2 separate regions of the Homo sapiens genome follow, and region 1 is linked to region 2. Evidence: fine-mapped expression QTL. A gene starts in region 2. The other region holds a variant in brackets. All regions are shown on one strand. Distances are between the middles of the regions.

Region 1 (2,922 bases), 53 kb after region 2:
CTCATTCAAACTTCACAGTACTTTGGTGACATAGGTATCATAACCTTATTTCATGAATTAGTACCATGAGGCTCAGAGAAAAGTTATTTCCACAAGATGCCCAGGAAGTTGAGGGCAGACCTGGAACTGGGGTCCGCCTCCTGATTCGGGCCCTCTCTGCAATACCGAAAACCATTTTATTTTAGACTATTTATTAGATTGGTGCAAAATCATTGTGATTTTAAGTTTTGCACCAACCTAATATTAAGGGAATTTGATTTCTAAACTCGGTAACTTAAAATTATAATTTATATTGTTTTGGTGCAATCCTGACATCCAGAACCATGGAGAAACGTAATCCCAGATTCTACATTTCTTCTACTTCTTTATAAAACAGCATTTGGGGAGAGGTAGGATTTATAATCAGATGTAGATACTACTTAAGGAAAAACTGGGCTAGAAACAGGATCTCCAGATAACGTTACTAGTGATGCTGATACACTGGATTTCTTCCCAGCTCCAGCTTTCATTTAGTTGTTTGCTCATAACATATTATAACCCCTTTCTATAGTAAACTGGCACAAGGTTTTCTTAAATTGATTCAGGAGGATAAATTGTAAAGTTATATCAGGAGAGGGGTAAAATCCACATTCACCAAAATGGAGGATTAGGGTTAGGGGTTAGAGCTGAGAGGGAGAAGAGATCAGAAAGGGAAGAAAAGGTGTAGGACACCCTGCTCTGGGGATGAGAAGGGAAGCTGAGAATGCCATTGACTTGTCACCAAAGGAGAAACTGAAGTTAGAGAGTCAGGGAGTATTTGGAGAAGCGTGGACAGTTATCTAGTAGGTTCTGGGTAAAGCAAGAGTTCAGTGGCCGAATGAAGAGCTCCACCTAAGCGGGTCTGAATGTCTTAGGAGGATTCCAGGCCTCAGGCTCCTGCATAATTCTACGGCAAGGGCAAGAAGTTGTAAAACAGGTTTTTGAGCAAAATAGCCACATAGACTAATTTGGCCTGGCATTGTCCTAACTCTTAATACCTCTCTCTCTCTGCTCCTCAGCACCCAAAGCCCACCCATATGTACCAACCAACTGCACCTTCCTCTACCGGCCTACTCTTCATCTACCCTGGGTCCCATCCTCCCGTCTCCTCCTCCTCCTCCCTCAGAGCTCCACCTAAGCCTGTCTTCAAAGGCAATGACCTGCATACAGAATTAGGCCATCTCTTCTACTCTCCACCCCATCAGCTCTCAAATTTCCACCAAAACTTATCTCATCTTATAGTTGTCAGGAAAGCAACTTGAATAATGATGACTTCATGTGTTAACTACCTCAGGTCCTTTACATGGTAAAGAAGGCACTCATTACCTCAAACACCACAGACATTCAGAATTGTGTTTTCTGAAGAAATTTTAGACCTTTTTTGTGGTGCATCTCAAAGTATACAAAGCACACACTTCATATTAACATATCATGTTAAGTAGATGCTAGAGGAAAGATCCAGTTTTATCACCAGTGTCTTAACCACTGTGTTGTACCCT[C/A]GGCATGAGCTTACCTTTGAAGAGCAATCTACAAGAGGAGTTTACCTGGTAAGTCGCTGAATTTGAGAGGAGGTGGCAAAATGGCAGAGGAATTGCTTCAAAATGGATGAGTCTGATTGAGACGCTTTTGTATACTGGAAACGGGGACAAATAAGCAGGATGTGCATTTGTTATGTTGAGAATGTTCCTTGCTGTGTTTATAGCTTATTTGAAATGTACTAAATTATTAAAAGTTTCTCCTTAAATACAAAGATTTAGAAAGCTGAGGCCTAAAAGTAGATCCTACTGGTCACAGTAGATTAAGAAATGTTTCTGTATCTGAGCTTAAGACAATGAGTAAGATACGAGAAAAGTGGTTATCAGGGTTGGGGTTACTGACCCTTCTAACTTCCCCTCTCTCAGACCTCCTCGTGGGATGAAGTAAATCAGGGAGTCTCTCGCTGCTTTCCTCAGTGTCTGTGGGTATTTAATAAACGTTGATGGAAACGCTTCACCAACCTGAGTGCATTGCCTCTCTTCTCTAGCCTCATCTATAAAAGAACTCTAAGTCATTTCTAAGCCAAGAAACGGCTGTGCTTTTACTACCTTTGTCATTATTATATGTCAGAATAGACCTTACCTGATTCAGCGTTTTCCTTCGAACTTCATATTCTACAGCTTTGTAATGATAGTTGATAGTAATTTTCATTTGCAATAAAAAAATAAAAGTTTAAACCAATGAAATAGCTGCAAGCCTGCTGTATCGGTTCGAACCCCAAGAGCGCGGTAACAAACACCACAAGGCGGTGTGGAGCAACACGCTGTTCTAATGAGCGCCTGGGTACAGACGGGCTGAGGTCTACAATGGCGTCAGCACCAAATGAGTATGCGGCAGGGGTTTATAAAGTCTCCTGTAAACAGGAAGTGTCTCAGTCTGATGTAACTGCTACGCAGTACGCGGACGGCCTCTCTTTCCGTCTTCAGCGGGTACGTGTCTTCCGGGCAGCCCTCTTCCTGCTTCTGCTATCTTGCTGACGCAGGCTGCTGACTCAAGTGGTCTTGAGCCTTGGGACTGGGCCTGAGAAGGGAGGAGTTATTCACCCTCCACCCCGCAGCTTCCAGGCCCAGTGGAAAGTCTTTCAATAGCCACCATCAGTTTCTACGGAGCAACATGTAAAAAATTACAAAAGTAGGAACATTGCAAATGCTTTCTCATGGCGGAATTAATGGCGACAAGAAAATTACGAAAGCATCGAAGCACTTTTAAGGCTGAGTTTTAATCCTAAGAAACACAAATGCTAAATATAAAATTCCAGTCAATCAACAAGTGCTAGCCTCGATTATTTAATGGTAAACAGTTGGGAAAAAGCTCAAATTAACACGAAATACTAAATAAGAGACTAATAAATATTTCATCTAGTTAGTG
Region 2 (2,922 bases):
GCATTAAGTGATAATATTGAACAACATCATGGATAAACCACAATGAGAGTTGCTGCAATTGTTATGGAAATGTAGGCATTTGTTTAGTCTTCAATTTTTTTTTTTAACAGAAAAGGCAACCTCTGCATTCACTGCTTACCTGAGATTTATGGATGAATGAAAAGATAGGTCCCTTGGAGAGTTCAAACTCTTCTGCAGATATTGTGTAACAGATTGCAAAATAGGTCTTCCTATCAGAATATGTATACCTTAGTGACAGCTATGAGTTTGGAACACGAATTATCTATCTGTGGTAGGTGTTGTCGTTGTTGCTATTATCATCCCCATTTGACAGTTGAGAAAATGGAGTTGCAGAAAGGTTAAGCAGTTTCTCAGTGTCACACAGCTAGTAAGTGGCGGTGCCAACATAGAAGTCCACTTCCTCAAGTGTTCATGCTTTTAAAAATGGAAACAAAACTCTAACAACCGTCAAACAGCAACGATTGTCAGAACCTAGAAAAGGCCTCTTAAATTTGCAGTGTTAACCAAGCCTGATGTGGTTCCCTAGATCCCCTGGCTGCCACCGCTCTGTGAAGCAAAGGAAAAACTAATTCCTTGCTAGCATAACACTTCTATTGAGCATTCCTGGACACAACTCCCCCAGGTTCTGAAGAGCCTAGGGTTGCTATTTGTTTAGTTCCCCATGGCTGCTTTTCACATTTTCTGGATCTTTCTCTTGATTCTAGCATTATAAGTCTACCTCTTCCCTGATCACTCACTTTTCTACCTCCTGGAGAGCACTGACCACGGGATCACCTCACCATTTTATTTAACCCATTAGGACTCAATGCCAGGCAAAACCTATACCACAGCCTGCATTGTATTCACCATCTCAGGCTCGAGCTCTGATTCCTGGGGTTGAGGAAAGGAAGACTTTCCAACCCCAATTTCTGCCATCCATGTTGATTAGTCAGAGGGCTAATCAACTGTGAACTCATGTTCTTTGGAACTAGGCAGCACAGGAAAAATAATCATTAAAGGTTTGGTAAATAAAAGACTGAATGGATGCTTAGCTACCTGTCATTATCCTGTCTCGCTTTTCGTCAGCATGCAATCCCAATCCTCAGCTGTTAAGATGTAGACAAAGAGTTCTGATGAAAGGGATTTATTTGTACTATTCCAACAGAGTCTGAAAACTAGCAGGAGCATTTCCATAGGTCGTCTCTCAACAATCCTGTCTGTAAATATTTGAGTCACTTACAGGCATTGTTGAGCATAGTTCTGGCCCAGCAAATCTTCCTCCTTTGTATCCCTGATCAAGTAAAAACTTAGTCAGGATATACTTGGGTGACCTTCACACTGTACCTCCTCCAGAGGTACAGAGGTGGTGACGTAATCACTGCCACAGCTGACTGGCTATGGCTTGCTTGATAAGACGCCAGGGGCTACCTATGTAGATTCCCAGGGAGGAACTGTAGGAACAAACCGGTGTCAATGGTTAACCCAGGTTCTTGGTGTCTGGAGCTTTTCTTTCCTTTATTATTAACTAAAGAGCATTCTCTACCATTGCCCAGCTGAAAGCACCTAGCTCATAGATTCTCTGTGGGGAGAGTGAATAAAGGTAAGTGCTATTATTGCTATGGATACAATGTCATTCAGCCTATGTTTTGCTCTTGCTGGCATCTGTGTTTGGGGAGCAGCAACACTCTGTTTCCAGCAAACGTAAATATTAATGATCAATTAAATGCAATTAAGATAATTTAATTTTTTATCCAAGTGCTTTAAGTAGGAATCAAACAGTGTGTCATATTCCTTAAGTTATTTTGAAGCTTTGGTTAAAAGTAGTCTCACATTGGTGTTTACAGAGTCTGTTAAACAGCCCTTGCCTGCTATTATATTTGTAAATGTCTAAAAGTGGCTTTATTATATTCATACCACATGGAGTATTCTGCAATGTCTTTCAAAACCAGATTTTTGCATCCTGTATGCACTTATGAACATATAATTGCAAATATTGAAAAATATGTATTTTATACCCCCCTCTTAAAAAGCTCAGAGAAAATACACGTTAACTTTTTTTTATAGTTGTCTATAATCATTGAAAGGAAATAAGAGATCTATTTTTTCTAGATTTATTTTAACATAAATTGAAAGTGAAGAATTTTCTCCTTTTGTTTTCACCTTAATCCCTCTAAAGCTTTTTTTTTTTTCTTATCATTTAAAAATCTTAAAATTTTGTTTTGAGTATTTAGTCAGAAAAGTGTGAGCTTGTAAAACTTTGCTCTCTGGATGCCACGAATTCTCTGACATATATAATTGAACAGTTTTCCTTGTTGGTATATTTAGGTAGTAAACAATAACATTTCTATAAGCCAGATGAATTTTGATCATGTGTATTACATGGACTGAATGGTCTTTAGAAAAAGAGTATTGGAGTATTTCTGCTAAATATTACTCTTATGGCTAGTAAGAGCCAGATCCTGAAGAAGAAAAAAATGTATGAATGCACCTTTGTTACTTTAGTATGGGAAATGTAGACTAGCCACTCTTTATGTCAGATTTTAACCAATAAAGGAACATGAAGTACCCAAACCACAGCTGTTTTGCAGAATACATTTAAGGAATTCCTGAAATTCAGCCAAAAAGAATTTAAAAGTGAACAAGGTCCAGAGTTCAATTCAAATCAAAAGAGAGAGAAAGAGAAAGAGAGCCTGAGTAACTTAGAGATGTAATCCTGCTTGTTTATTTTTAGAACACGATAATTGTGATAAATCTAAGATTATTAGTCTCATATACAACAAGACTGACAACCTTTGAAACTGCAAGAAAAGACTGCTTTGGGAGAGGAATTCAATATTCTATTTTAATGCATTTTTCTCAACAAGAATTTCAGCATGAGAGAGAACAAGAGTCTTCAAGGATATTGAAAAATATATGTTTCTT

What was found.
Region 1: its variant is fine-mapped to the expression of KCNJ16 in pancreas (GTEx, PIP above 0.99). The same link has a PIP of 0.9 or more in thyroid.

The regions. Positions count from the first base shown.
Region 1 is chr17:70,126,507-70,129,428 of GRCh38, forward strand. All of the region lies in intron 2 of KCNJ16 (potassium inwardly rectifying channel subfamily J member 16), which reads left to right. It overlaps LOC124904052 (a long non-coding RNA gene), which reads right to left and starts at 2,374. Exons shown (of 3, transcript XR_007065890.1): 1 at 2,137-2,374; 2 at 1,563-1,651. RefSeq lists an enhancer at 1,707-2,906. The variant C/A (reference allele first, on the strand shown) is at 1,518.
Region 2 is chr17:70,073,791-70,076,712 of GRCh38, forward strand. It overlaps KCNJ16 (potassium inwardly rectifying channel subfamily J member 16), which reads left to right and starts at 1,435. Exons shown (of 4, transcript NM_170741.4): 1 at 1,435-1,600. It overlaps LOC105371881 (a long non-coding RNA gene), which reads right to left and starts at 1,017. Exons shown (of 3, transcript XR_934952.3): 1 at 1-1,017.